3 linked regions of the Homo sapiens genome follow. The protein of the gene in region 3 purifies or fractionates together with the protein of the main gene of each other region. This does not show direct contact. Each region holds a gene or a part of one and is shown on either strand. Other genes may lie near its edges.

What was found. The genes of interacting proteins can lie anywhere in the genome.
Region 1: the proteins of PLSCR5 (region 3) and TTC1 purify together in Homo sapiens (affinity purification with mass spectrometry; one large-scale study listed by BioGRID and IntAct). This does not show direct contact.
Region 2: the proteins of PLSCR5 (region 3) and AMBRA1 purify together in Homo sapiens (affinity purification with mass spectrometry; one large-scale study listed by BioGRID and IntAct). This does not show direct contact.

Annotation. Positions count from the first base shown.
Region 1 is NC_000005.10:160,015,639-160,019,138, forward strand, and holds part of TTC1 (tetratricopeptide repeat protein 1), read left to right. Parts: exon of another isoform or gene 1-3,393; intron 3,394-3,500.
Region 2 is NC_000011.10:46,542,024-46,545,523, forward strand, and holds part of AMBRA1 (activating molecule in BECN1-regulated autophagy protein 1), read right to left. Parts: intron 2,019-3,500; coding exon 1,952-2,018; intron 1,376-1,951; coding exon 1-1,375. UniProt on the Homo sapiens protein: Substrate-recognition component of a DCX (DDB1-CUL4-X-box) E3 ubiquitin-protein ligase complex involved in cell cycle control and autophagy.
Region 3 is NC_000003.12:146,595,347-146,598,846, forward strand, and holds part of PLSCR5 (phospholipid scramblase family member 5), read right to left. Parts: intron 1-3,500.

The DNA of each region.
Region 1 (3,500 bases), on a different chromosome or scaffold from region 3:
CTTCACCTGGCTGTTCTATATCATTCATAATGTCCTTTGTAATAAACTACTAAGTGTAAGTAAAGTGTTTCCCAGAGTTCTGTGAGCCATTCTAGCAAATTATTGAACCCACAGAGAGGGTGGTAAGAACCCTGTGCTAACCATTCAGTCGGAATCATAGGTCACAACCTGGGACTTGTGATTAGTGTCTGAAGTGGGGCCAGGCTTATGAGACTAAACTCTTAACCTGTGGGATCAGACACTGTCTACCTGGAGATAGTGACAGAACTGAATTGAATTATAGGACACTCCGTTGGTGTCCATTGGAGAATTGTTTAGTGTGGAAAACACTCTCATCTGGTGTCAGACCTATTGGGAGGGTATAGTAGGAGAGAAAAATGTGTTCTTCCCAGAGTATTACTTAAATTTTGTTGTTATATTTATGTAGTATACAATGCAGTTGTTAAAGGTAAATCTTGGCCGGGTGCAGTGGCTCATGCCTATAATCCCAGCACTTTGGGAGGCCAAGGTGGGCAGACCACTCAAGACCAGGAATTCAAGACCAGCCTGGCCAACATGGTGAAACCCCATCTCTACTAAAAATACAAAAATTAGCCAGGTATGGCGGTGCACACCTATAGTCCCAGCTACTTAGAAGGCTGAGGCACGAGAATTGCTTGAACCTAGGAGGCGGAGGTTGCAGAGAGCCGAGATCACGCCACTGCACTCCAGCCTGGGTGACAGAATGAGACTCTGTCTCAATAAATAAATAAATAATTTAAAAAATTTTTTTAAAAAGATGAATCGTAGGTATTGACCTGGGAAGCTGCCTGTAATATAATGTCAAATTAATTAATCAGGTTATACAACAGTGATGATTTCTTTTAAGGCTATGTGAAAATATGTTTATACATACAAATTTGAAGGATATACACCAAAGTATAAGCAGTAAGTAACTTTGAGAGGTATGATTATTAGGGAATTTTAATTTATATGTAATGCAATTTTGTAATATTTGCTTTTTTTTTCAGTAAGCCTGTATTACATTATTCCATTTTAAGAATATAAATAAATAAAAATTGATTACTTTACAACCAAACTGTGTGCCCTACCACAAAAGCACATGAAGCTGACCCCTGATGATTTGGGAAAGAAGTGCTATTCCGTACAGGGTCTATGTAGTATTAAAGGTTTCTTGTTGGACACAACCAAATAATAGTAGCCAAAGTCTGTTAATCAAGCTAACTTCACTTGTCCTGTGGCTGGGAAGATAATTCACGCTCAAGTGTAGTGTCACTTCTCAGCAGGACTCATAAATCAAGAATAATTGAGGAGGAAAGCAGTTAAGATTTGGTAAAAACAGGAAAAGCTCTCAGAGAGTATAGTGTATTCGTGTGTTTATTTCAGCAGTAAATCTTAACTATTTGTGAAAGCTTAAATGTAGATATAACTACCCACAGGAATGGAATTTTAGCTAACATTTGAGATGTACTAGGTATGTGAAGCAAATAACTGGTTCTGAGAGGCTTGGCTAAGGTGAAGGACAAATGTAGCAGCAGAAGAGAATTGCAATAATAACATTATGATACAAAAATTCTATCTTAGTGTGTTGGAGCTGCTATAACAAAATACCTTAGACTGGATAACTTATAAATAATAGAAATTTATTGCTCATAATTCTGGAGGCTGAGAAGTCCAAGATCAAGGTGCCAGCAATTTTAGTGTCTGGTGAGGGCCTCTTCCTTACAGATGGCACCATTTGTGTCCCTACATGGCAGCAGGGGCAGGGCAGCTCCCTTCAACCTCTTTTATTAGGACACTAATCCATTCATGAGGTTGGAACCCTTATGACTTAATCACATCCCAAAAGGACGCACCTCTTAATACCAACACAATGGGGATTATTTCAACATGAATTTTGGAGGGACACATTCAGACCATAGCAAGTGTTTATAGTATTAGGACCTATGGCACATACTGCAGAATGCTAGTATTGATTCCATAAGAAAATCGCCTTTTATGGACTGCTTGTCACAGTGCAGTTTCTTAGGTCTCATGTGTAAATTTCCTAGGTAATTCATATGCACATGCTGAGGCTTGAGGACCACTGTCACAGGTTTTGCACAATCTTCCTTCATTAAATAGCTGTTGAATGAATAGCATCTTTTTCTCCCCCATGAGAGCCAATAATTGGCCTTATAAGTTACAGAAATTTTTTTCTCACATTTATTCAAGTAATATTTACATTTCTTCCACCCACTAGACATTGTTTGAGGCCCTGAGGGATACAGTGGTGAACAAGACAGGGTTTCTGTTCTCTCATTGGAGAATTAGGACAAAATGTTAACATGAAGGATGGGTTGGGTTGGAAGGATGGTGCTATGGTTTGAATGTTTTCCTCCAAAATTCATGTTGAACTTAATCCTCAATGTGTAGTATTAAGAGGTGGAGCCTTTAGAAGGTGATTAGAAGAATTAGTATCCTTATAAAGTATACCAATAAAAGACTTGAGGGAACCTGTTGGGCCCTTCTACTCCCCTTCCACAAAGTGAGGATGCAGAAAGAAGGCACCATATTGAAGCAAAGAACAAGCCCCTTACCAGACGCGAAATCTGCTGGTGCCTTGATCTTGGAATTTCCAGCCCCTAGAGCTGTGCAAAATAAATTTCTATTATTTATAAATTACTGAGTCTGTTATTTTGTTATAGCAACCTGACTAAGACAGGTGGAGAGGACTGCTTTAGATTGGCTGGTCAGGAAAGCCTCTCTGGAGAGGTGGCCTCTCAACAGAGACTTAGGGGAGGGTGGCACTGGGAGCAGCCAAATGTGTGACCGTCTGAGAGGGAAGCATTGCAGACAAAGAGAGCAGTTGAATAAAGCCCTAAAGTAACAACAAGTTTGGTGTTTTGGCATGTTCAAGGAATGGAAGAGCCGATGGCTGAAGCATGATGATTAAGGAAGAGAGTGGGCTGATAGTAGGCAAGGGTCTGATTATGGAATAGTTCCTAAGCCGTAGTAAAGAACTTGAAGTTTTTTCCAAGTGCAGAAGGAAACAGATGGATAATTTTAAGCCAGGGAGAGACGGAAGTTATTTACATTTTAATAAGAGAATTCAGTTCTTATACAGAGAATGGAGGGGTATGAGGATGGAGGAGGGACATGAATAGAACATTTGAGCCCAATTAGGCTCTAATGCAGTAGCCCAGTGAAGATGATAGTAGCTTGAACTGTGGATCTGAAGAGAAGTGTATGATTTTGGGATATATTTCAGAGGTAAAGCAGACCACACATTGCAGTGGATTCGATTGGCGGGATGGAGTGAGACGTTAGAATGATTCCTTGTCTTCAGCTACTGGATGGATGGTGTGGCCTTTATTAATATGAAGAAGATGAAGGAACTTTGAACTTATCCAGGTTCTGGTGATTTAATTCTTTCCTGCAAACAAACATTTTTTATTTGTAAGCCAAAATGCAGATTTAGTCATTTCAATGGGTTTGCTCCCTTTCACTAGTGGTTTGCA
Region 2 (3,500 bases), on a different chromosome or scaffold from region 3:
TGGACTGGGTGTAAATTCTTTCCCAGTGGCCTGTCTCCTGGTTAAAGGCCACCCCCACAGTCCTCTCCTCCTGCGGACTAGCAGAGCTGCTCAACTCCAGCCTGCTGGAGCTGGGCGTTTGGCCCTCAGTCCGCTCGAGAGGTGGCAACTGGCTGCCACTTGATGGCACACTCTCAAAGGAGCTGGGGACCTGCCAAGAGGAACTAGCCTCGCCAGAGGAGTAGTTAGGTGTGGTTCTTTCCCAGCGCAGGGTATCGTTGTTGAAGGTCAGGAGATTGTGGCAAGCACGACAGCGATTCAGGTGGCCACGGGACAGGTTGGAGTTGTTCTCACTGCTGTGTGGGGTGGGCTGGTGGGAAGGGCCTGGCCTCTCAGATTCAATGTTATTGTTGAGCATTTCCTGGGCCTGTTGGGTCTGGGGAGCTTCCCCACTCAGGCTCTGATCCAGCTCCTGAAGCCGGTCATACTCCAGAAAGAAGCGTCTCAGGTCACACTGAAGCTCATGGCGAATGCTGCCCGAGTTGTTTTGGCTGGAGCCATTCCCTCCATCTGACTCAGTTGCCAACCCTGATGCCGGAAAACCCCTCCCTTCTGTGGCTGAAGTGTACACAGATGCCTGAGAGCCACCTTCCTGCTGTCTCAGCACAGACAGCAAACTCACCGAAGAGGCACTGGTTCTGGGCGGGGGCATGGATTCCGCCTCAGAGCGGGAGTTCAGACTGAGTACTGTCCGGGTCCACTCAGATCCTGTCAACCCAGGAGCTATTTCTCGGTGATACCTAGAAGGGTGGCTAGACAGAGGCCCTCCCAAAGAGCGGCGGGTAGGACCCAGACTGAGGTTGCGGAGCGTGTTGCCGGCAGTGCTGCTCTGGACTGTACTGAAGGCAGACGGCCGGTTCAGGAGGCCCTGGTCCTGCTGCGTTGACGAGGCCTGCTCCGGGGGATGGAAGGGCTCGGTCTGTACAAAAGAAAAGGAAGGGGTAGTAGCTCTGGCAGAAGCAGGGGGGACACTGTCCTGGTGTGGCAAGAGGGAAGGAACTCGAGTGCCAGAGCAGCGGCTGCAAAGGCACAGGATCCCAAGGTGCTGGCAGCACTCAGCTGTGGGGTAACTGACCCGCTGTCGGAGCCTGATGTAAGCGGAAGTCCTGGGGCGCTCCGTGGAGGGCTGAGGGGGAGGCGGTGGGGGTGAGGGGGTAGCAGAATCTTGCACTGTGCTTTGCTCTCCCACCTGGATGCCAGAAGAGCGGGAGGACAGCATGTGCAGGAAATTGTGGAGGAGAGGCGTCCGGCGAACTGGCTGTGATTGCAGGAGGGCACGCTGACGGTAGTGGGATAATTCTGTTCCATCTATGGGGATCTCTGGTTCGTCATCACCCTGCAACGTGGACCAGCATGGGGCAGGGGGTAGAGCAAGGCAGTTAGGTAGAACCTCCAAGTAAATCAAGAAAAACTAACCACTGACAATCATCCAAGGAAAACAATGTTCATAGGTAGGAAACAACTCTCTACCCCTGAAGCACTGACAACTGGCCTCAGATTCAAAATAATCACATGGTATTAAATTTTCCACTCCCAATTAGCAGCATATCTGAATGAGTGCAGCTGACAAACCAATTGTCTTACAAAAGACATCTCCCCATGACATGGAAGCAGTGAGGGGAAGCAAAATGTCAACCAGCCAGAGGCACATGAGTGACAAGCTATCCAACACTGTCTAGTGATGATAAGGGTTACTTCTAATGAGGCAATCACTGGAGGGTTTCAGAATCGACTCTCCTGTCAAGATTATGGCTATAACCCTGAATATACAGTCTGAAGCTAGCTTTAAATCTTGACTGGAAAGATAAGACTTGGGTATTGAGAATTAAAATCCAATATAATCAGAATTGGAATACTAGTTAAGAAAAGAACTCACAGTTTAGCTGGAATTGGAACTGCTGGACTAACTTACCTGTTGATTAGAGGGGTTAACAATTGCTGTGAGTAAGTAGTGTCCAAGTGGATCAAATCTCACCAGACTAAAATCACAGAAGAAAGAGACAAAGACACACATAGAGAGATTATGTTAACTGAGAAGAGGAAACTTGTGTTTGAATTTATAGCAATCATTACTGATAACTGGTATCACTCAGGTATCCACTTCATTCAAGACTTCCAAAACTTTCAAAGAGATTAAAATAGTAACACTCAATACTTCTTGCCAGAGTAAAGGAATATGTATCACAAAAATAACGATTTCACATGAAAAACACCTAGAGTTGCCATCCCAGGAAACAGCTACCTTAAGCACACCTTTGCTCAAATACAAGAGTTCATCCTAACCGTAAAGCATAAAATGCTCTCATACTCTGCCACAGAATCAGTTCTTCCCTCATATGGCAGCTACACCGGCAAGAAGCATGAATCTTGGTGGCAATGAACAGTCCCAGCATTAAGTGACATAGCTGAAACCAGAAAATTGGCCTGTATTCGACTGGAAATCCAAGAGGACCAAAGAAACACAATGCATCAACTTTAATACAGACAATATGTTTTGATCTTGAGGACTAAATAAATGTCAATTATGTGCTTACATCTCCATCTTCCAGTTTGATAAACACAGACAACCCACCAAGGTATCTAAAATACCACCCAAACTTCTTTCAGGTTTTCCCAAAGAAGTACTATCCAAAACAGTTAGCTTTGAAACTAAAAGAGAGTCTAATGACCCTGATCTCCAAAAACCAGAAGATGAGGCCAATAAGGGAAAGCTGAAATGAACAAAATGAATGTCTCCCAGCTGATTAGTCAGCTGCTTAGAAAGCAGGAGGCGGCCAGGTGCAGTGGCTCATACCTATAATCCCAATACTTTGGGAGGCTAAAGCAGGAGGATCACTGAAGGCCAGTAGTTCGAGACTAGCCTGGGTAACACAGTGAGGCCCCGCCCCCCAAATCTCTACGAAAAAATTTAAAAATTAGCTGAGAGAGGCTGCACACACCTGTAGTCCCAGATACTCATAAGACTGAGGTGGGAGGATTGCTTGGGCCCATGAGGTCAAGGCTGCAGTAACTTGGGCCCATGAGGTCATGACTGCACAACTGTACTCCAGCCTGGGTAACAGAGCAAGACCCTGTCTCCTTAAAAAAAAAAAAAAAGCCGGGGGGGGGGGGGTGGTGGTGGGCATGGTGGCTCATGCCTGTAATCACAGCACTTTGGGAGGCTGAGGTGGGCGGATCACTTAAGGCCAGGAGTTCAAGACCATCCTGGACAACATGGTGAAACCCTATCTTTATTAAAAATACAAAAAAATGAGCCGGGCATGGTGGTGGGTGCCTGCAATCCCAGCTACTCTGGAGGCTGAGGCACGAGAATCGCTTGAACCTAGGAGGCAGAGGTCGCAGTGAGACAAGACTGCGCCACTGCACTCCACCCTGGGTGACAGAGTGACACCCTGTCTCAAAAAAAAAATAGGAGGAGCTATGAGGATGACAACTTGCCCTGAGCAGGGATAACAACCTGA
Region 3 (3,500 bases):
GTGGCTCATGCCTATAAATCCAGTACTTCTGGAGGTCAAGGTAGGCAGATTGCTTGAGCCCAGGAGTTCGAGACCAGTCTGTGCAAAATGGCAAACCCCTGTCTTTACAAAAATTAGCTGGCTGTAGTGGCGTGCGCCTCTAGTCCCAGCTACACAGGAGAGAGGTGGAGGTGGGAGGATAGCTTGATCCTGGGAGGTCGAGGTTGTGGTGCACAGTACACTCCAGCCTAGTCCCCAGAGGGGAGACTCTGTCTCAATTAAAAAAAAAGAAAAAGAAAGAAAAAGGAGACTGAGACAGAACTAACTCTGTGTTAACTCCGCAATAATGAGAAAATTAGAGTAGATCTTGAAAACAAGAGTTTGTGAAGATTTTTAAACAATCTCTGAATTATAATGTTTAAGATGTTTTACAACTCAATTTTTTTAGAAGACATGAAACAACACAATAATGATTTGAATGCCTGGCCTCTCCTCTTAACCTCTGCCTACGTCTACTATCACTCTGTCAAACTGCAACTCATATCTTTCAGTGATGGAATATATTTGTTAAACCTGAAAGGTTATTGTATACATTTTTCTCTCATTCACACTTTCCTTTGGACTAAAAATAAAAATGAGTTCCTGTGGATGCCAACAAAATACCAATTTAAGTCAAATAAATGTTATGGCACTAAATACATTACAAGATTTGACTTATGTAATTAAAAATAAAGTTAATTTACAGAGATAAAGTATCCACAGATAATTGAGAAATGATGATTAAATTAAAAAATCTGTAATGCAAATTGCTTTTTAAAGGAAATATGAAAGTTATGTTCTTATAAAGAAATTTATTTGCGTTTATTTTATTTTTATTTTTTGAGACAGAGTTCAGCTTTGTGGCCCAGGCTGGAGTGCAGTGGCACCATCTTGGCTCACTGCAACCTCCACCTCCTAGGTTCAAGCAATTCTCGTGCCTCAGCCACCTGAGCAGTTGGGATTACAGGTGCACGCCACCATGCTCGGCTAATTTTCGTATTTTTAGTAGACACACAGGGTTTTGCCATGTTGGCCATGCTGGTCTCAAATTCCTGGCCTCAAGTGATCCACCCATCTCAGCCTCCCAAAGTGCTGGCATTACAGGTATGAGCCACTGTGCCTGGCCTATTTGTGTTTATTTTCAATCTGATATTCAGTACTTGAAGATCCAGTAATGCAAAAGCATGAACACTAAATATGCTGCTGATCATTGTATTTTCTAACGCTTCATTTTTCCTTTCACCTTAAAATTTTCTTCACCATATTCTCCCTTCGCATTAATAAACTCACCAGTAACTATTAAACTAACCAGTCATTACTAAAATTTGGTATTGATTGGACATCACAATCTCAGAACATTTGAAGCTACATGATTTCCCTCATTCTCCTTGTATGTCCTAAGGTGAAGGTAAAACTAATATCATTTTCTCTATTTAAACCTTATTATTGATAAAATAATATGTGTGGCCTCTTTTTTAAGATTCACAAAAAATATTTTTCCAAAAATAATTTATGATCTAAGATATTCTAAAACCTAAATTAACAATAATAAGAAAGCTTTTATTAGAAAAAAAATACTAGACCAAGTCTTTAGTAGTGTACTGCATTAGTTCTGTTATCTTCTGAGGAAAACGGAGTGGTAAGCCTCAACAAGGATATATGTTATTATTTAGTAGTTGATCTAAGCAAAAGTAACTTAGAAATGGAGATCTGTGTGATCAAGAATAAAGTGGGAGTTTAGGTACTTTGAATACTGTTGTCATGAATCAAGTTCTAGTATTGAAATTTAGAAACTATTAATTGAAGTCCACCTGACAATGAAAAAGTAGTACCTCTCTAATATCCAACAATAACAGTTTTTTTAATTGAATAACTACCATAAGGTAGTCACTGTGCTAGATGTTTAGACAGCATCTGATTTAATCCTCACAAAAACTCAGAGAGATAAATATCATTAATTTTAAATGTGAGGAAGCAAGCCCACAGAGATTAAGTAATTTGCCCACCATCACAGAACTTGTAAATGGACATCAATTCTGACATGCATTCTATTCTGTTTCTTTACGGACATCACTACGCTAAATTTAAGGGAAATAAGTCTTAAGTGACGACATGAAACTTGAGTACCTTTCCTATTTTCTTTACTCTTATACCCTCCCCATCCTCTGTAATAACATTTGATTTGCTCTCTCTGTGAAAAAATCTCCTGGATTTAAGGGAGTTGTTTGTTTTAGGCTGTTCTTGTAGTTTTCCTTAAATAGCACATAGCCACTTACAAACTATGGCCCAAAGGGGCATTTTCCATTCTTTTTCTATTCATTGATAGACTAGCAATTTTGGAAACTTTAAACAGATTGAATTATACGTTTAGGTGTCATGGCAAGTAAAACTTAACTCCTTAAGTATGAAAGCTGTAGAAATGAAAATACAATGAGAGGATTAGATGTATGGCTTAATAATTAATTTAAAAAAAATCAAGTTGACAGGTATCAATGATTCCATTTGATATATGTATTTCAAAATAAATTGGATATTTACATGTTTTGTAGACTTTAACTCATTACTCTTATGTATAGGTGACTATAATAATTATTCTTTGACACTATACAGTAAAATGTTATTGACTGTATGAACATGTAAATTTAATTTGGAAAGAATTTATTGATTTTACTCTTAGATTTAATGTACATTATATAGCTAAACACTCATATATGTATATTTTCAAATTGTTCATGGAAACAAGATTCTCAATAGTAATTGGATGGACTTGATTAAAAGAGAATAGATGTTAAAATATTTTATTTAAATTTTTAAATTTAGAACATATTAATTGTATATTTCCTGTTTATTCATTGATTAATGTACTATTTCCAAATGTTCATTATTTTGTTTGATTTTTGTGGCTTTTAGGGAAAAGTTGGCATCTAAAAATTCATTTTATATTGTGTCTCTTCCAGACTCATGGCATAACAGTTTGGAAGTGCTCATTCATCCTTTTATATGTGCACTGCTTTAAAGTAAAGTAAATAAATGTTCTTTTAGTATAAAGTGAGGAAATTACCTTTCCCTTTAGAAGTAGAATATTCAACAATTGGTGGCATATTTTTCTTTTCTTGGAATGATTAACAAAGGTATATTTTTGGAAAATTTATTCCATTTTAGAACCAAAGCCAATGGGCTCATATCTCTACTTATTGAACACAACAAAAATGTATTCATGTCAAGCATCTGGCTCCGGGTGTGTCATCATTCATGAATGGAAGAAGAATATGTGATGACCATATGTGATCATCAAACCTCAGCCCTCTGGCACTGGTATATCACTTTTATACTTGGCAAAACCTTGTCTGACAACATTCCCAAACAGCTTGCAGCAGTTAATCAACTCTAGTCAGCTATTACAGCTGATCCTTTCTGCAGATGGAAGATGGTAGGTTTGCGTTTCCAGCTCTTTTACATATCTCCCTGAGCTCTCCAGTCTC